3 linked regions of the Homo sapiens genome follow. The protein of the gene in region 2 binds, or shares a complex with, the protein of the main gene of each other region. Each region holds a gene or a part of one and is shown on either strand. Other genes may lie near its edges.

Evidence for each region. Proteins that work in one complex are often made in the same cells at the same time.
Region 1: MORF4L1 (region 2) and MBTD1 share a complex: the UniProt entries of both Homo sapiens proteins name them as parts of the nuA4 histone acetyltransferase complex.
Region 3: MORF4L1 (region 2) and ING3 share a complex: the UniProt entries of both Homo sapiens proteins name them as parts of the nuA4 histone acetyltransferase complex.

Annotation. Positions count from the first base shown.
Region 1 is NC_000017.11:51,187,050-51,194,076, forward strand, and holds part of MBTD1 (MBT domain-containing protein 1), read right to left. Parts: intron 6,462-7,027; coding exon 6,379-6,461; intron 5,968-6,378; coding exon 5,733-5,967; intron 5,232-5,732; coding exon 5,154-5,231; intron 1-5,153. UniProt on the Homo sapiens protein: Chromatin reader component of the NuA4 histone acetyltransferase complex, a multiprotein complex involved in transcriptional activation of select genes principally by acetylation of nucleosomal histones H4 and H2A.
Region 2 is NC_000015.10:78,882,883-78,889,909, forward strand, and holds part of MORF4L1 (mortality factor 4-like protein 1), read left to right. Parts: intron 1-2,084; coding exon of another isoform or gene 2,085-2,201; intron 2,202-3,258; coding exon 3,259-3,345; intron 3,346-4,386; coding exon 4,387-4,467; intron 4,468-7,027. UniProt on the Homo sapiens protein: Component of the NuA4 histone acetyltransferase (HAT) complex which is involved in transcriptional activation of select genes principally by acetylation of nucleosomal histones H4 and H2A.
Region 3 is NC_000007.14:120,967,750-120,974,776, reverse strand, and holds part of ING3 (inhibitor of growth protein 3), read right to left. Parts: intron 6,844-7,027; coding exon 6,686-6,843; intron 5,767-6,685; coding exon 5,573-5,766; intron 4,090-5,572; coding exon 3,897-4,089; intron 3,577-3,896; exon of another isoform or gene 3,432-3,576; intron 1,573-3,431; coding exon 1,534-1,572; intron 50-1,533; coding exon 1-49. UniProt on the Homo sapiens protein: Component of the NuA4 histone acetyltransferase (HAT) complex which is involved in transcriptional activation of select genes principally by acetylation of nucleosomal histones H4 and H2A.

The DNA.
Region 1 (7,027 bases), on a different chromosome or scaffold from region 2:
ACAATTCTTATTCTAAAATGTACTTCCAAATTCAAAGCTTATTGCCTGTAAATTCTTAAGCAATCTGATTTATTCTGAAACAAATTTATCAGGCTGGGCATGGTGGCTTATGCCTGTAATCCCAGCACCTTGGGATGCCAAGGCAGAAGAATGAGGATGGCTTCAGGCCAGGAGTTTCAGACCAGCCTGGGCAACACAGTGAGACCCATCTCTACAAAAAATAAAAAAAAATTGCTGGGCAATGCTGGAGTCTGATGTGGGAGATTTGCTTGAGCCCAAGGGTTCAAGGCTGCAGTGAGCTATGATTGCACCACAGTGCTCCAGGCTGGGCAATAAAGTGAGACCTTGTCTCAAAAAAAAAAAAAAAAAAGTATCACCCTTCAGCTATAGTTTTCTATACAAATATAAGCCTTCCAAGACATGTACAATGCTTTTGCCAACCAAAAAAAATACTCTGAACTCTGCAAATATTGAAGAACCAGGCATAGTGCATTAATCATATTGAAAGCTGAAGGATCAGCAGGGTACAGTGGCTCACACCTATGATCCCAGCACTTTGGGAGGCCGAGGCAGGTGGATCACTTGAGGTCAGGAGTTCAAGACCAGCCTGGCCAACATAGTGAAACCCCGTCTCTACTAAAAATACAAAAATTAGCCGTAAGTAGTGGTGCACACCTGTAATCCCACTACTTGGGAGGCTGAAGCAGGAGAATCGCTTGAATCCGGGAGGCAGAGGTTGTGGCGAGCCGACAGTGCACCACTGCACTCCAGCCTGGGAGACAGAGCAAGACTCTGTCTCAAAAAGAAAGAAAGAAAGAAAAAAAAAAAAAAAGCAAAGGGATCTTTATCTTTGTGACTGAGTTATGTCTGTTTTCTTCCAGATGACAGAATAAACCGAGTAAGAGCAATAAAAAATTATGCTTCACAAAATCAAAACTAAAAGGTAAATGTAAGCCACACAGTATTCCTATGTAAAATGATGTGGGATTTAAGCTGTTATTGAGTAGATTCAACTCTCAAGAGCCAAACCAAAATCACATGCAGCAACAACTTAAGACTTTTTCCTAATATACCACATACTCACAGATAAAAACGCAAGGAGCAATGTCCACTCTTACTACTTACAGTAGTCCCTGAAAATGGTGAGATTTAAAGCAGAAATCAGTACTGCTTTTCCTGCTCTAGAATTACATCTTAAGGAAAAGAGGCTTTTGAGACTAGAGAGTGTCTATGATCCTTCTGGCAGAACCTTATACTTATTCTCAAAAGTGTCAGTAATTATCCCTCCTTCGTGGCATGAACACAACTTACTACAAAGCAAGCTAGACCAATGAAGCTCATCAGCTGTTTCTGTACAATAAGCACTGCCAAAGAATATACCACTAACAGATGATCTTAAGTTCAAAAAGACCAACGAGCTGTAAGATGAAGCAACAGAGCCAGAATATGATAACCTACCAAGGCAAACGTAAAAACAAAAGGTTTTATAGCCCATCTGGTATTTATATCAGTCTGCCTGCAATGGATGACAGGTTTCTAAACCCCAAATACTTATTTGTGTAACTAAAGCTTAGTGAGAAAACTTTCTAACAAACTGCTGAGTAATAGAAAAAAATAAGAGGCGGCGGCACCATTAGAGTGAAAACTGCTGCTTCTTAATACGGCACTATACTTCCTTATCCTCAATTCCAACATTCAAATAGGTTTTTTTTTTTTTTTTTTTTTTTGAGAGGGAGTTTTGCTCTTGTTGCCCAGGCTGGAGTGCAATGGCGCGATCTCGGCTCACTGCAACCTCCGCCTCCCAGGTTCAAGCGATTCTCCTGCCTCAGCCTCCCGAGTGCTGGGATTACAGGCATGCGCCACCACGCCTGGCTAATTTTGCATTTTTAGTAGAGACGGGGTTTCTCCATGTTGGTCAGGCTGGTCTCGAACTCCTGACCTCAGGTGATCCGCCTGCCTCGGCCTCCCAAAGTGCTGGGATTATAGGCGTGAGCCACCGTGCCTGGCCTCAGGAAGTTTTTTTAAAAAGAACTTTGGCAACAAAGCCGTACCTCACTTGGTGACACTACTTATAATTTTTATTTGGGCCATTTAATGTAAATATTTATATATATATTTGCTTTAAAAATGTTTCAGAGTCTGGAGTGTTACATAATGTATGTTACACAGACTATATTTCTCTTCTAAAATCCAAAAAATTCTGAATTCCAATGCACATCTGGTCCCAAGGGCATCTAATGAGGTACTGTGGGTCCATAGTTCTTTTCTTTTCTATGTCCAAAGGACAATTTAAAGGTAGTAGAGATGATGTCATACTATTAGGAAATAGTGAAACATTATAGTTAAGGAATATGTTGCATATAGACCAAAATTCATTTTTTCAGTGAATCCAGAACTCTAGTAATGGTAAATATCACTAAAAACTGGGGTGCTAATATTTCTTCATTAATTACATATTTCTTTCCATGTTCCCAGCCCATTAATTCAAAACAGTTTTAACTCCACAAATCAGAAACAAATCCTACAAGAGTCACGCTGAGGGAGGCAAATGAATTGTCTACATAAAACTCACAGATAAGTTCTAAAAAGCAATGTCATATAGCCACTGAGTAATAAAAACCATTTTTAATTTGACATCTTGGAAAGAAAATTCTGAAATTCCAAAGTCTTATCCAACAGAAAGTGAAAGCAGACTTGTTATTTACTTCACAGAAAGCTTAGTGATCATATCTGCTATTGTCAGTCCACTGACATAAATGAAGTTCCCATGTGAATTCTTGCTACTCATTTAGATACATGAGAACTCCCTTTCATCAGGCTGGTTTGGCAATGCTCCCTAAAGTTCTTTTAGGTGAGTATCAGACCTGGCAAGCAGCTGGTGGGCAAAATAATTCTGGGCCTGTGGGAGGCTTGTGCCTATAAACGAGAGGTCAAGAGACAGGCCTGTAGGTTGCTACTTGTGTGTGGCTGACATGGGTTTTGTGCTGGGAGAAAACTTATTTTTCAAAGTACTACTATAGTGGACAGTAGAAATTTTTAAGTTTCCCACTTAACAAGCAAACATCAGAAAGGTTAGAACAGAGTATATTCGATTCTTCTTGCCACTTCAGTCTCTAGGTTGTTAATGAGGCAAATCAGCACGTACCTGAGCATATTTGGCAAGTCAGCTGGAAAAATCTGTTTCAGTTTTAATCCTCAAGTATACTTTTACATTTTTTAAATAGCTTGCTTTTTTCTTCCTTTTTTTGTTTTTAGAGATGGGGTCTTGCCATGTTACCCAGGCTGGTCTAAAGCCATCCGCCTTGGCCTCCCAAAGTTGCTGGGATTAATTACAGGCATGAGCCACCGCGTCCAGTCCAATTTAAAAAATATCTTTAAATAAAAATTGGCCAGACTCAGAGGATCACACCTGTAATCCCAGCACTTTGGGAGACCAAGGCAGGCAGATGGATCGCTTGAGCCCAGGAGTTTGAGACCAGCCTGGGTAATATGGTGAGACACCATTTCTATAAAAATATAAAAACGAGTTGGGCATGGTGGTATACTCCTGTAGTCCCAGCTACTCCAGGGGCTGAGGTGGGAGAATTGCTTGTACCCGAGAAGTCGAGGCTGCAGTGAGCCAAGATCATACCACTGCATTCCAGTCTGGGCGACAGACTGAGACTCTGTCTCAAAAAAAAAAAAAAAAAAAAAAAAAAAAAATATATATATATATATATATAACCTTATCTAAGAATGAAATGAAATATGGCCATGTGTGGTGGCTCATGCCTGTAATCCCAGCACTTTGGGAGGCTGAGGTGGGCAGAGTGCTTGAGCCCAAAAGTTTGAGACCAGCCTGGGCAACGTGGCAAGACTCTGTCTCTACAAAAAAATACAAAACTTAGCTGGGTGTGTGGCAACACATGCCTGTGGTCCAAGCTACTCAGGAGGCTGGGGTGGGAGGACTGCTTGAGCCAGGGAAGGTTAAGGCTGTAGTGAGCGGAGATTGTGCCACTGCACTCCATTCCAGCCTGAGCAACAAAGTAAGGCCTTGTCTCAAAAAAGAATGAAACATTCTATGACAAGTTTTATGAAGAGAGAAAGCTATGGCTTTCTATGGTGGGGAAATAAGATAAAAAAAATCAAACATAGTTATCAATATATTTTATATTACTTTGGCTTATGCCAACAATTCACTGTAAGGTAAAATATAGTATAGAAAGAATTTCTTTTTTTTTTTTTTTTTCGAGATGGAGTTTTGCTCTTGTTGCCCAGGCTAGAGTGCAATGGCACGATCTCGGCTCACCTCAACCTCCGCCTCCTGGGTTCAAGCAATTCTCCTGCCTCAGCCTCCCAAGTAGCTGGGATTACAGGCGTGCACCACCACACCCGGCTAATTTTTTAGTATAGAAAGCATTTCTAGAAAAATTTGGTAAAGCTTGTTTGCCATCAACTTGGATTTCTTACCAGTATCACTCTAGAAAGTTTTGCTTTCTAGGAAAAATGGGTTTATTAGGCTTCACATCTACTGTAAGCATCAAGCATCTGCTAATTTTTTTTTTTTTTTTTGAGACAGAGTCTTGCTGTGTTGCCCAGCTGGAATGTAGTGGCGTGATCTTGGCTCACTGCAACCTCTGCCTCCTGGGTTCAAGTGATTCTCTTGCCTCAGCCTCCTGAGTAGCTGGGACTTCAGGCGTGTGCCACCACGCCCGGCAGATTTTTTGTATTTTTGGTGGAGACAGGGTTTCACCGTGTTAGCCAGGATGGTCTCGATCTCCTGACCTTGTGATCTGCCAGCCTCGGCCTCCTAAAGTGCTGGGATTACAGGCGTGAGCCACTGCACCTGGCTGCTAATTTTTCTTTTTAAATAAAGTTTTTAAAAAGGATTAACTTTCAGTAGGTTTTACATATTATTTCAAGAATCATTCACAGACTCTATTCTTTACCACGTATACTTTAAATACTGTGGTAATAATTTCTCCTGTTAGTAAAATATCAGTGTTTCTCATTATTGCAAGGGTTTGCCTTTTATGGCATACTGCACCTTTAAGCATAATACATAATGCACAATCATCAGTTCTCACAAGATATATCATTTTCTGTCCAAGAATACTGTGACTCCAATTAGTTAACAATTAGAAAATGTATGTGAACACCACGTGGTGACCCACTTTTCTTATGTCCTTTGTATTGCTGGGACTTAGCCTTTTTCTTCTGTTTTGATGAAGCTGATTGGTTTTCTCTTGATGCTGAAAAATAAAAAGGGAAAATTGGTACTAGATAATTGTTTACAATTTAGACGATACAGTTGTCTAGATACAACTTATATGAACTATCTTTACCAAGACCATTATACTTAAGTACATGATGCTCTGAAAATAAGGGTACTTGTTCCTACAAAACCATAGCCTCAACATGAGACATTTTCCACTATTTACTCAAAAGCATTTATTACCTACCAATAAACTTTTAGTATGTAATTTTTAACTCACTAAAATAGTAAGTCTAGTTTAATTTGGTGACTGTTGTGTTTCTATAGTCATTATGTAATTGACTATTGGATTCACATTGCCATGGGACACATGGTCTGATTCTGTGATATTGTTGTTGAGTCTTAATGTCTTACCTGGCAACCAATCAGACATAGGTATATTCTTGTCCTGTGAGCTCATAAGATGACTTATGTGAGATAGTCCTCTGGAGAATTGCTGATTTTTACAAAAGGACACCTTTTCTGTATACCAACTTACACTGTGATGCTGGAGGCTGTAGTTGATATCCAGTTAACTGACACCACCCTACAGGATAGAGGTCAGGTGACTCACAGTCTACCCACTGATCATACTCTTCTTCCCATCCATCAAAATGTATCCTCAAGAGACGATGAATAATTCGAGTTACTGTGGCTACACATATTAAACGTGGCTCCATGAGATCTACTGCTTCTAATTTCATTCCTACACGAAATCCGTGATTTGGAACATCCTGACACAGAGAAGAAAACATTAATATTGGTATGAAGAAGAAAGAATGCACAACCCTACTATCACTAAGAAAGCAAAAAACAGAAGCGACTAGCTAAATAACATAATTATAAACCATAAATTCCAAATAATTCTTTAACTATTTAAACATAGTACGAAGGTGAAGTATTTAAAAACTAGTTAGGAAAAATCTTCATTTCTATTTCCTTCAGATTAAAAACGAAACATAGTTTGGAAACAAGTTTTGATTCCTAGGTAAAGAAAATATTTATATTGTTTCATTGCTATATTTGTTTATATTATATCTCCACTAAGAAATTCTAATACAAGGCAAAGACATTTTTATGAACATAAATTGTATTTGTGGGGCATTAATAAGTCCTCACATAATTATGCTGCCATTTAAATTTACCTTATTAAATAGTTTTACTGGTGCTGCAATGGAGCCAGTTTCCCTGAGGTAGTCAAACCATTTAAAAGGAAGTTTTGTGTAACCTAAAAAACACAACTGGTTTAACTAGCAGTTCATTTAAAATTAGCATAATATTAAAATGCAGACAAAAAGTAACAGTACAAAAAATCTTAAGAGCATAGGTTATATGATCAACTTTATTTTTTTTGAGACAGGGTCTTGCTCTGTCGCCCAGGCTGGAGTGCAGTAGTGCCCTCAAAGGCTTACTGCAGCCTCAACCTCCAGGGCTCAAGTGATCCTCCTGCCTTAGCCTCTCTAGTAGCTGGGACTACAGGCACATGCCACTGTGACAGGCTAATTTTTTGTTGTTTTTAGTAGAGACAGGGTCTCCCTATGTTGCCCGGGTTGTTCTCAAACTCCTGGTCTCAAGCAATCCTCCTACCTGAGTCTCCCAAAGTGCTGGGATTATTGGCGTGAGCCACTGCACCTGGCCTATATGATTTATACTGCTGAGTGCAATAATTCCTCCATGTTACACAGATTTCCCTCCCCTCTCTAGAAACACTGGTGTGCCTACTTAGTCTAACGCAAAAGTGGCTCTCTTTTTCTGTTTACTACAATGGTACATTTTTGCTCTTTCAATCCTAGG
Region 2 (7,027 bases):
AGACACCCCTCTTATAATTAAGCAAATAAAAATTTTAAAAAAGTGTTTGAGGCTGGGTGTAGTGGCTCATGCCTGTAATCTCAACACTTTGGGAGGCCAAAACGGTTGGATCATTTGAGGTCAGGAGTTCAAGTCCAGCCTGGCCAACATGGTGAAACCCCATCTCTACTAAAAATAAAAAAATTAGCCAGGTGTGGTGGCACACGACTGTAGTCCCAGCTGCTGGGGAGGCTGAGGCAGGAGAATCGCTTGAACCCAGGAGGCGAAGGTTGCAGTGAGCTGAGATTGCACCACTGTATTCTAGCCTAGGCGACAGAGTGAGACTCAGGAAAAAAAAAAAAAAAGCGATTGAACACATAAAAAACTAAGGGAAACTACGACAAGGGAATAGAATAAAGAAGATATTTTTAAAAACCTTAAAAAATTATTTTAGAATTTCACCTTAGTAACTGTGAATACAGCTTTTGTGCTTAGTTCTTTTTCACATATAATAGATAACCCTGTATAAAATTGCACACATAGATGTGTACAGCGCAAAGACTGGATTTTAAGTGGCATTTGTAGCTTGTCACAAGTTGTGAAAATACCAAATGCTTGTATTTTCAGATTTTATTGTTTCGAAAAATAATGGGCATTTTCCTCTTTGGTGTATTGTAGTCCAGTAACTCAAAGAAATGATAGGTTTGTGTAGATTTTTTTGTTCTCAACTAATTTGACACATATTAATTACTGTTGGGGAAAGTTAAGAAAAAATAGCATCAAATATTAGAGATTTGTTACTATCTTTGTAGATGTATTGAGGAATATTAATATATCAGAAATGTCTTTGGTTGACTTGGCATGTAGATAAATATATGCAATGTTGAAAGAATGATCTTAGCTTTAGAAAGTCTTTAAAGAAACCTTTAAATTCATTTTGAAAGGGGGAGGAGTTATTCAGATACCTAGTGTGTTGTGTATTTAGTCTATGTAAGTACTGCCCATGGATCATTGTGACTCTGGGAATTAGTCACATTACCGTTAGAAAACTATGAAATTCTGGGCCAGGCGCGGTGGCTCACACCTGTAATCCCAGCACTTTGGGAGGCCGAGGCGGGCAGATCACAAGGTCAGGAGTTCTAGACCAGCCTGGCCAACATGATGAAATCCCGTCTCTAGTAAAAATACAAAAATTAGCCAGGTGTGGTGGTTCATGCCTGTAATCCCAGCTAGTTTGTAGGCTGAGGCAGGAGAACTGCTTGAACCTGGGAGGCAGAGGTTGCAGTGAGCCGAGATCGTGCCACTGCACTCCAGCCTGGGCGACAGAGCAAGACTCCATCTCAAAAAAAAAAACAAAAAGCTGAAATTCTTGCCAGGCGCGATGGCTCATGCCTGTAATCCCAGCACTTTGGGAGGCCTAGGCAGGTGGATCACGAGGTCAGGAGTTCAAAACCAGCCTGGCCATGGTGGTGAAACTCTGTCTCTACTAAAAATTAGCTGGGTGTAGTGGCGCGCACCTGTAGTCCCAGCATTTTGGGAAGCCGAGGGTGGGCGGATCACCTGAGGCTAGGAGTTCGAGACAAGCCTGACCAACATGGAGAAACCCTGTCTGTACTAAAAATACAAAATTAGCTGGGCGTGGTGGCGCATGCCTGTAATCCCAATTACTCAGGAGGCTGAGGCAGGAGAATCGCTAGAACCCAGGAGGCAGAGGTTGTGGTGAGCCAAGATCACGCCATTGCACTCCAGCCAGGGCAACGAGAGCGCAACTCTGTCTCAAAAAAAAAAAAAAAAAAAATACACACACACACACACACACACACACAAATATCTCAAAAATAATCTCATTTTGAAAATGGCTTGTGCAGGGTACTTTTTAAAATTCGTACAACAAAACCTTAATCCCTAAATTGGAATTCTCTTAAACTTCAGTTAATCTTTTTTCAAAAACATAATAGATGATGGAGATTTCTAAATTTTCAAACCTCATTGGAATTTGTTGACACACACTTAAATACTCCATTTGTAAATGAATCTTAATAAAGCTGAGGCTCAATTCTGCACCTGGTCACTGAGATTACTTTGTACTATGCTGTCTGTATCAGAAGTGCTGTGAGGCCCAGGCGCTCTGAAAAATCTTTGAAGACACATGAGGATATTGTAGCCCTTTTTCCTGTTCCTGAAGGAGCTCCCTCAGTACACCACCCCCTCCTGACCTCTAGGTAAATGCATGTTTTGAAATTTTCTCTAGGAAATCATGTTCAGGATTGCTTTTTATTATTTTCCTCTTGGCTGTATTATATAAGAGGTCAGAGGTGGGAAATCATTAAACAAAAGAAAGTCTTAAATTTTTTTTTGTAATTGGGTGCCTTGAGAGTACACCTAATTGTGTCACTAAAGGAGCTCCATCAGCAGGAGAAAAGATTTACTGCTCAAAAAAAGTTAGCATTCCCTAAGAAATTACATTGTTTTTGTTTGCCATTTTGGGGGAAAAAACACATAATCAGAAATTGTGTTTTGAACAAGCTCTTTGAAGTGCCAGAATGTCTTAACATTTTTGAGAGAGTTGGTTCTGCCTTCTAATATTTAGAAAGCCAGCTTTCTGATCAGCCTTGAAAGTTATTAGTGTGTATTCATTTGTGACTGAATGAAGGTGGAGAATGGTGTCAAATCATTTTAATACTTTACAAACTTAAGTTAGTCTAGTTGGTGTTTGAGTATTGTAGACTTCCTAATATGTTTCTGACATACCTTTAGTGTTGTTTTGTGTCAGGGATTCTCAGGTGTTTTACATGTATTCTCATAACAGTTATTTGAGATAAGTACTGTTGTTATCCTCATTTCATAGAGAATGAAATGAAAACACAAAGCTATATGGAACTTTGTCATTACACACAGCTGGTTTTAATTTTTAAAAATAACTGAGTTTTTGACTCCTGTGCTTTATTTTTGACAATAAAAGTCTTTAAGATAACATAAGACTAATCACTTAGTGAATCTTACATTAAGTGCCAAACTCTTAAGCCATTTCTAAAAATGATTTGAATAATCTGCTTTTGGACTCTGGCAGCTTAGATTTGGAATGCTGCTTTTTGAAAATAAAAAGTTTTCCTTTTTACAGAACAGACTTCCATTAGATCTTCATTTTAGTTGAGAATATATTTGTAGTGCCAGTTCATCAAATTACTTAAGAGAAATCCAGTCTTGCCTCTTGATCTCAGAAAATTAGTTGGAGAACAGAGTATTTTTGAGTTAAATTTTAACTTTCCTCTTTTTCAGTTGGGATGAATGGGTTCCGGAGAGCAGAGTACTCAAATACGTGGACACCAATTTGCAGAAACAGCGAGAACTTCAAAAAGCCAATCAGTAAGTTTGTTTTGTGAACTGAATATTAAGGAGAAATGCCTGTAGATTAATTCTGGACATGGAATGAACAATGGAGATCATGTTGGCTGCCCTGCCTATAAAATGATTCCTGGTACCTTTCAGCTGCTGTGTTACAGCTTTGACTTCAAGCGATCAAGCCATATCTAGGTAAAGGAAGTAGCATACCTGCCATTACTTGAGCTTATCTTAGACCTAGGTAGAAAACAGCAGAATGTTGTTGGAAATTGCTATAGGTATGAACTCACTGATAAAAATCTTTATTTTCGGGGGCTCTGGAAGACAAATTTGGTGGGGAAACAAGCAAACGAGGCATTTCCTATTCTGCTTTTCATCTCTGAAAGCACGGGAAAAGGGACCCTGAAAGACTCTATGATTTATAGGGTAATCTCAAAGTTGAAATGTATTTTTAAAAAAATTAAAACGATGGCTGGGCGCAGTGGCTCACGCCTGTAATCCCAGCATTTTGGGAGGCCAAGGCGGGTGGATCACGAGGTCAGGAGATCAAGACCATCCTGGCTAACACGGTGAAACCCCGTCTCTACTAAAAATTCAAAAAATTAGCCGGGCATGGTGGCGGGCGCCTGTAGTCCCAGCTACTCCGGAGGCTGAGGCAGGAGAATGGCGTGAACCCGGGAGGCAGAGCTTTCAGTGAGCGGAGATCGCGCCACTGCAGTGTAGCCTGGGCAGCACAGTGAAACTCTGTCTCAAAAAAAAAAAAAAAAAGAATTAAAATGGTAATGGGAACAAATAAAACACTGGGATTAGTGAATTCCAAAACAAATGGAATTTTCAATGCTATGAGAACAGTCTATTACAGTCACTTTTTATTACATTGATTTTAATTGAGCCTTTTGCTGTTTCTTGAGTGTTTTGTTTGATTTTTGTGGAAATATCTCTGTCCAACTTGTTAAAAACTTGTTGCCAGAATTTGAATGTAAATTCCTAATGGAATCAGGCTGACAATTTTTTTTTCACATAAATGCTCATTTTATGTTGACATTACTGAAATTATTTTTGAAGGGAGCAGTATGCAGAGGGGAAGATGAGAGGGGCTGCCCCAGGAAAGAAGACATCTGGTCTGCAACAGAAAAATGTTGAAGTGTAAGAAGCTCTTTGTTTTGATTTTGCATACTATATGTGAAGATAATATTTTATGTTCATTGTGTGTTAGACTGTGTTGAAGTGGAAACTTTGGAACATTGTTGGAACCAGTAAGAATCCCATTCCTCAGGTATCAGGTCGTTAAAGTAGTTTAAAATAACGTATTCCTTAATTTTCCTCAGCAGGTTCCCCCTCCCTTTAACTTGTGTGTATAAATATATGTGTGTGATGTTTTCTCTTACAAAGATAGTACTAGTGGTTATAAGTTTTGAGATAACTTTTGGCAAGCCTTTTCAAACCTAAAAAGCAAGTGCTGGCAAGTGCTAAAAATACATACGAATTAACCTCCACTTTGGTGAAACTCATGGTAAGAATATGTGAGAAGTTAAGGTTTCAAATAACTGCCCTCCTCATCCCCACCCCTAAGAAAACCATTGCTTTTTTTTGAGACAGAGTTTCCCTCTTGTTGCCCAGGCTGGAGTGCAGTGGTGTGATCTGTGCTCACTGCAACCTCTGCCTCCTGGGTTCAAGTGATTCTCCTGCCTCAGCCTCCCAAGTAGCGGGGATTACAGGCGTGTGCCACCACGCCTGGCTGATTTTTGTATTTTTAGTAGAGATGGAGTTTCACCATGTTGGTCAGGCTGACCTCCTGACCTCAGGTGATCCACCTGCCTTGGCCTCCCAGAGTGCTGGGATTATAGGCGTGAGCCACTGCTCCTGGCACAAAACCATTACTTCTTGTTAACTCTAGATTTTAGAACATCTGATAAGAAGCCTAGAGTGAGAAAGTCATGTGCATGCATACATTTTGTATGTTTAAAGTTTATGTAGGACGGTGCGGTGGCTCACACCTGTAATCCCCCTACTTTGTTTGGGAGGCTGAGGCAGGAGAATGGTTTGAGCCCAGGAGTTTGAGACCAACTTGGGCAACATCGGGAGCCTCTGGTTCTACAGAAAAATAAAAAAATTAGCTCGGGGGTGGTGGCACATGCTTGTAGTCCCACCTATTCAGGAGGCCGATGTGGGAGGGTCACTTGAGCCCAGGAGGTCAAGGCTGCACTTTAGTCTTGGCGACTGAGTGAGATCCTGTCTTTTAAAAAGAAAAAAAAAAAAGTTGATGTACCTGAAAGTGGATGACAAGAGTGGTAACTTAATAAGTATTCTTAAGTATTTGTAATAATAAAAACAAAAATTATAACTTTTATTAAGAGGTCATTTTATTTCCTACCAGAATTACTGATCTGATTTTTCTACTTAAAAGTAAGGTGTTACACCCAGTGCTTTGGGAGGCTGAGGTGGGAGGGATTGCTTGAGGCCAGGAGTTCTAGGCTGCAGTGATCTGTGATTGCACCACTGCGCTCCAGCCTCTTAAAAAAAGTAAGGTGTTACTAATGAAGGTATTTAGTATTTAATGCATTTGGAGATGTTTGAAGCTTTTTATTTTTTTTTAAACTCTTTTTGGTGAGAAGATAATTGGCAAGGATTAAGTGTGTTACTATTTGAGGATTGTTCATAGTTTTAATAAGTGGTAACATGTTTTCATGATCTGGTTCTTTGGAAAACTGTAGTGTAGTATTTCATTAGGATTTAATAGTAATTATGTCTTAAAAGGCAGTAATTTTCTCTATATAGAAAAGATTTTTATCAAAAGTAATAGTTCATAACTAATTCTTTATCACTGTGCTAAGTTATTATATAGAAATCTTAAGTGGTAGTATGCCCATAAGTTATTTGCATTTGAATACAGCATTGTGCAGTCTCCACTACAAAAATAATGGCTGAGTAAATATATGAAGTAAAGCTTTAAAATTTAAATTTCCCATTCTTGAACAGTAGAAGCCTCTTCAAACTGGCTTCTGAGTCTTTTGAAGGATCCTCAGTCTAGACGTTTGAAGCATGAATGTCAAGCTCTTACTACTAGGACTTATTGAAGTGTATGGGTTGAATATCCCTTATCTGAAGTGTTTCGGACCAGAAGCGTTTCAGATTCCAGACTTTTTTTGGATTTTGAAATGTTTGCGTTATACTTACCTGTTGAACATCCCAAATCCAAAATGCTTCAATGAGCATTTCCTTTGAATGTCATGTTGGCTCAGAAAATTGGGATTTTTGGAGCATTTTGGCTTTGGGATGCTGAACTCATCTATATTTTATAGATCTTTTACTTTAGAGTTGAGATCACCTGTCAGTATTTTAGTTTTATATTACAGAGGTGAGTGGGTAAAGGATTGAGTGTGAAGACTATTGGTTTCTCTTGGTCTCCACATATTGACACGTGCAAGTAAAGTTCATGGTTGACTTTGACCGAGAAATACAGTCCAACAGATTTTTACAAAACTAACAGACAAGAGAAAACCTATACACAGATTTTTGTGTTTATATCCAAACATAAGTTAATTTGAATTGTCAAACCTTAAGACCTAAATTAAATGAATATATTTAATTAATAACATTTATAAGTATTATTTAAAGCTACAGAAAAGTAAAAAATCCAGGTGTTATAGTATCTTTCCATCGAAAGTAATCCATAATCATGGGCTCTATAAACTGTTTCCTTTGT
Region 3 (7,027 bases), on a different chromosome or scaffold from region 2:
GTGCCTCTGTCAATCCAACGCAGCCATAATGGAACCATTCTATAGGGCACTAGAAAGCAAAATTGCAAAAAACAAGTTTTCAGTACTTCTGAAGACAAGAGAGTATATTAAAATATGCTCAGGAGACTGAATAATCCATTTAATTTAACAATAATTAGATGTGTGACATCAGAATTTTTAGATCTAGATTATTTAGACATCATTTAGACTAAATGATAAGCTTCAGGAATGAGGAAATGAAGGCACAGAAAAATTATGCATCTTCAAGAATCCTGAGGTCCATGTAATCTAGTCCCCTCATCCTAATGAATGAAAATTCACTAGTTTTCAGCTTTCAAGGGCAAAAAGAAGTGGGATGAATCTTCTATGTAGAAGGTAAATATAACTTAAGATTTTATTTAATAGTCAGCCTTATTTGCTGTCTCATAAAGTAGAATAAGCTGATTGTAATTAAAGACATTAATTTATGTCTTATGCCCTGCATTTCCTACGTGGGTGTTTCTATTCCTTGAAATGTAGAGAAAAATTATTCCTCTTTGAAACATATTAAGCAGAAAACTCTTTCATGAAAGTCTTAGCACTCAGAAGAGCACAACTGGGAATAAGAAGAATCAGAGAAGCATGATGCTGGTACTCATAGAAATCTCATTCATCATTTTCACTAACTGCCCCAGAAGAGTTTACAGTGATGTTCTTGAAATGGTTGGGCAATATTGTTTTTGCAACAACCACAAACAGCCTACAAGGGATTCTAGACAGGGAAACAGAAGGAGGCTCTGTCCCAATCTACGTGAGCATGTTGCTGTAACCCTATCAGGTCTAGGAAAAGTACACATTTTAATGCACCTAGCCAGCTCCCTCAATCTTCAGATTGTTTTACAAATTTAAAACTCTTGTTAATCTTAGGATCCTGTCACTACTAAATAAGGAGGGAGTCAAAATTACTAGACAACAATATTCTCAGTATTGAATAAAAAACGTATCTCTAACTAAAATTAAGTCTCCTAAAAACCAAGAATTCCTTCCTTTCAAATTTCCTTTACTTTTTAGATCAGGGGTGGCTCTTATCAGCTGACACCTGCAGAGTACAGGAAAAAATATTATACTCATGAGAGGAAGATAATCTCACATTAGATCCTCAATTATCCCACCCTTCACTTTAGCACGGTGCAGCCTGAAAGAATGAATTGTTTTAAAATTCCATTTCTTCAATGTGATAAATGAACTGGATTCTAGTAAACACAGTATTTTTTAGTAAAGGGAAAGGAGGGTATTTATAATTTTCATACAACATAACACTTCTGAGACAATCTGCACATAAAACCATAAAATTAGCTTTAAAAATTAAAATAGGGAACACATTAAGGGACACTACCCTATTTTGAAGAGGAATATTCTAGCATTAGCATAATATAACTAATATACCTGCAAACCTGTTTTCTTAGACCAAACCATACAGCAAATAAGACAAATATTCAAGTAATAACAACCTGTGATTTTTTTCATTCCTAAATAGAAAAATGTAATACTTACATCTTGGTTATCACATCCCACCATCTCACCATAAGATACCTAGTTAAAAAAAATTAAATGTCTTTATTATGACTATGTAACAAACACCTAGATACCAATTAACTGTTTATGTATGATACTGCTGGAAAATAAAGGGAAATACACTGAATATACAATTACATTGAGAATCAAGGTATAATAATTTTTTCCTGAAATACTCTTTTGGGCAGGGTGGGGCAAGGGTGGGAAGAAATGCACAGGAATTATCTGCCCTTCAGAAGTCTGGAAGAACTTGACATATAAATCACCCGGATGAAGGAGTCATCTTTCTGGGTAGTTCTTATTGTAAAAATTTTAAGTTCCTTTCTTGATTATTTACTTACTGAAAGTTTTTACTTCTTGGGTCACATTAGGTCATTTATATTTTTGCAATTAATAGTCTCCTTCCTTGAAACTTCTAAACTTATCTATTTTATGTCCTTTCTCATTTTTCTTTTGCTCTTCATCACCAGCACTTTAGGGCATAACTTGCTAATTCTTGAGTTCACTGAAGTTCTCAGTGGATTGAATAATTTTTCAGACAGGATTAACTAGATGGCATATCTTCTGATTCTCTGCATGAGTGAAAATATATTTACATGGTCCTATGCAGAGAAATAACTTCTCTGAATATCAAGTTTTTGGGGGCTCTTAATTTTTCCCTGAAAGCTCTACAGACATATTCCATCACCTTCTAGTTTTTTAGTGTTACAGAGGAAAACTCTAGGTTCAGTCTGATTTTGTTCTTTTGCAAGTAATCTACTTTTGTTGTCAGGATACAGGATATGCTTTTCTATCATTTGTACTGAAAAATGTTTATCGGGTGATAGTGGAACAGCTAACAAATTGTTAAAATTTTTAAAAATCAGACTGGCAACTCATACTGTTAGACACAATAATCTGCTGATAGACTAAGTCTTAAATGTGAAGAAACTGAAGCATGCAAAGAACTAGACAAAACCATATAAAAACTAGGAGAAAATATTATACAAGACAATTTTTTGTAGAAAGAAGAGCCAAAGAGAAAGCCCTTCTAAGTATATAATCCATGGCTTGCTTCATAAAAAAAAATTAACAGTCATAACTACATAAAATTAAAATTTTAGAATTATTTTTAAAAAACTAAATCAAGCAAATATTTAGAGTACATAACAAAAACAATAGAAAAATCAGCCGACACCATTAGGAGTCGATTCATAATGTAAAAAACAAAAATGGTCAAAAAATGTCCAACTTCAATAATACTAGTGTATTTAAAACAATCATAATATAAAACTACCAAATTGGTACTTAGTTTTTAAAAGAAAATAATATCCAGTGTTGGACAGGGTTTAGTAAACCGGTATGTTTATTAATTTTTGGTAATAAATTTCTAGAAAATATATTTTGGTGTCTGTCAAATATTTACAGCCTAATTTTATTTCTAAAAGATTATCCAAGAAATTAGATGTATAAAATGGATTACATTTAAAAAATGCCTATCGTAATATTATCCCTAATTTCAAACAAATTAAAACCACTAATATAATCTATAGCTAGGTATTGGTTAAGAAAACTACACTGGATGGCATAAGAGATAACTATGTGAAAATTAAAAATATGATCTTAAAGAAAAATCATGTTCGGTATACCTGATTTAGAGAAAAAAGCCAGTAACAAGAAAGTATACACTGTGGTTCCTACTGACAAACTTATACACACATGCATGTGCAAATCTGCATAGACACGTGTTATGAAATGCAAGCTTATGTCTCAAAATCATATGTTGAAGCCCTAACCCCCAACGTGACTATAATTGGAAACAGGGCCTGTGAGGAGGTGGTAAAGGTTAAATGAGGTCATAGAGTGGGGTCCTACTCTGACAAGGCTGGTGCCCTTATAAGAAAAGACACCAGAGCACACTCTTTCTCCCTCTATCATGTGAGGACCCGGTGAGAAGGCAGCAGTCTCCATCTAGGAAGGGAGCCCTCCTCCAGAACTGAGTCAGTGGACACCTTGATCTTGGACTTCCCAGCCTTCATACCTGTGAGAAAATTATTTTCTGTTGTTTAAGCTACCCAGTCTGTTGTATTTTATTAAGGCAGCCAATGTGCACATGAGGTATATGGTAGTGGTATACCAAAAATGTTTAGTTACAGGTTGTATCTGAGGGCTAGGATTATGGGTAACATTTTTCTTTATACTCAGTATTTACAGCAAATGTCACTTTTGTAAGAAGGGGGAGAAAAGTATACAAATAAAGCAAAGGTATTTTAAGTGAGTTTAAAAAAGTGCTTAAAAATGAAATAGTTCTCTTCCTTCTAGTTTATTCAGATTATACTTTTATAGATATAACAGACTTTTACCTGATTACAAATGCAGTATCGAGGTTCATTTGGGTCGTAAGTCCAATCAACCTGACTATTTGAATCAGATTCTGGCACTACAGTTGTTTGTTGAGAGATTTCTTGTACAACAGTTGATGATGAAGAACACGATGATAAGGAAGAAGAGGAGGAGGAAGATGATGACTGCTGGCTTGAAGACTTGTTGTTGTTTCTGAAAAAAATAGTATAAGTTTTATTTGCTCACCATCCAGAAGTTAACTGAGAATAACTCCTAAATAAATAGTATAAAATGAAATGACATCAAATGTATAAATTAAAGTGTAAGCTAAAGTAATCCGGATTTACCAATGACTTAAATTGTAGGTAGTACTTTGAAGAATTAACATAAGTTCTGGCTACTTTACAGACATTATTTGTATTTTTTTTTTTTTTTTGAGATGGAGTCTCGCTCTGTTGCCCAGACTGGAGTGCAGTGGCGCGATCTCTGCACACCGCAAGCTCCACCTCCCAGGTTCACGCCATTCTCCTGCCTCAGCCTCCCGAGTAGCTGGGACTACAGGCGCCCGCCACCATGCCTGGCTAATTTTTTGTATTTTTAGTAGAGATGGGGTTTCATCGTGTTAGCCAGGATGGTCTCGATCTCCTGACCTCGTGATCTGCCCACCTCGGCCTCCCAAAGTGCTGGGATTATAGGCATGAGCCACCCCGCCCAGCCACTCATTATTCGTATTTTTAAGTAAACTGAATACTCTTCATCAAAACCTAAAGCACACACACACAAAAACATTTGATGAAAGTGGTTATAACCATCAACTGATGTGTGAATACCTACCATGAGTATGGCAGGGAACCAAGACTGTAAAAATTCACAAGTAATTTACTGCTAAGCCCTATGCTATTTAAATTCTAAAAGTATAGAACTTTATCATAAGAAATTACATTAAACTTGTACCATTAAGATGAATTAATTTTTAAGATGTTTGACACTTCTGTTGTGGTTATTTCATATTGATCGTTCTTTAAGGGATTAATTCACAAAAAATATAACATATTTTAAAATACAGAAAATATAACTACTAGGTAACTAATTATTTTGGCCTAGCATTTGAACTTTCATTATGTATAAACACCCAGCATATTCAGTTACCTGGGATAGACAGTGATAAATGCTATTAGGTTTTCATATTTAAAGCTTATACAGTCATCCCAAGTCTCATATACAAAATCTAGGGATATTTTTACACCATCAGTTTTTGGGACCCAAGACTAAGAATGAAGACGCCTTGCTTGCTGTTAATCAAAATGAAAAATCTTGTTTAAAAAAAAAAAATCACCAGGATATAATTTGCATTGCATTAATTTACCTTGAAACACATGGCAAAATAAAGGGTAATAAATGAAAAGCAGTTCCATAAAATGATTTATCTTAATGAATAAAAGAAGATAAAAAGAAGTCATGTATTAACAAACTCAATTTATGACTCTAGAAAAATTAAAAACAACTCTAACACTTTTTAAAGACTTGACACCTTCAAAGTATGGCACTATAAAATGAAAACCGCATGTCTCCCTACCTCTGCAAGGTTAATTTTAATCCGTTATATCCTGCCTTTAACATAGAGAGGCCTGGCTGAAGTGTCAAGTAGACCAAGTGTTCAGTAAAGGTATAGGGCTACTGTAACAATAAAACTTACTTGCTCTTTCGACCACTCCGTGAGTCGGCTGCTGATGAACTGGCATTCTGTGTTAATGTTGTCATAAGTGCCGAAGATGATGAATAGCCAACTGTTTCCCTGGCCATTGAAAATTCTTTTCCCAACTGAAAGTCATTATTCTTAAATGCTTCATAACTGGCTTTTAAACTTGATGTTCTTCGTCCCTCCTTCATCTTAAATAGACATTCATTGATAGCATCAATATATGTAAATATGTAGATTTTCTTTTTCAAGTTTTACAAATTATAGTTTTATTTTGGTTTATCAAATGTTAATTTATATTGTTTAAACTATTATTTTCATCACTGGAATTTAAGCTTTTTTTTTTTTTTTTTTTTGAGGTGGAGTTTCAATCTGTCGCTTGGGCTGGAGTCTAGTGGCACGATTTTGGCTCGCTGCAACCTCCACCTCTCAGGTTCAAGCAATTCTCCTGCCATAGCCTACCGAGTAGCTGGGATTACAGGCACCCACCAGGCACCCAGCTAATTTTTTTGTATTTTTAGTAGAAATGGAGTTTCACCATGTTGACCAGGCTGGTTTTGAACTCCTGACCTCAAGTGATCCACCTGCCTCGGCCTATCAAAGAGCTGGGATTACAGGTGTGAGTCACCATGCCTGGCCTAACCTTTTTCATTTAAAGATTTAAAATAAGATTTTACACAGTTAGAATATAAACTATGGGATGGGCAGCTTCTTAATTTGGAATATAGGCAAACTATACAGAAGTGAACAAACTCAAGATGACCTAAGTCCAAGGCTACAGGGGAAGCCTTGGAACTGGCAGAAAGAACGAAGAACTATGCTAGCATGTGCTGTGGACTGCAGTCAAGAACATGGGCAACATGAGCAGTTATTGTGAGAAGGGTCTGCATGTAATCCGCATGATAAACCTATTTTTTAGTTTTCATTATCAATCAGGCAATTCCTATGTATTATTTCATTAAATAAAATATCACATATCGTGAAATCATGACTTAAAAATGAAAATATACAACGTTAGAAAACTATTTGTTCACATCCCGTTATTTCTATTAGGTTTCCAATGATTCCGACAAAATGTAACATTTTGTCTCTAAACCCTTTACTTTTTACCTGAGCTGTAGCCTGAACTGCTTGAGCAGCTGCCATGGTAATTGCCCCTGCACCAGTTCCTGAAGATAACGAGCCAATGTTATAGGATCCCAGAGGTTGGGAGGAATTCACATTGTAGGCATTGTTAGAAGAGGCTGTGGAATTATTATTTCGACAACCTGTGTAGATGTAAAAAAGAAATAAAAATGGTTGCAGAGAACATAATGTTAGTGAGTCTAAATTACATTATTTCCCAGCACAGACATATAATCATTAAAATTTTTAATGTCACTTGTACATTAAGTCAACTGAATAATGTATTTGGTTTTCCTTTTTCTTCTTTCTCCATATGTATACTTTAAC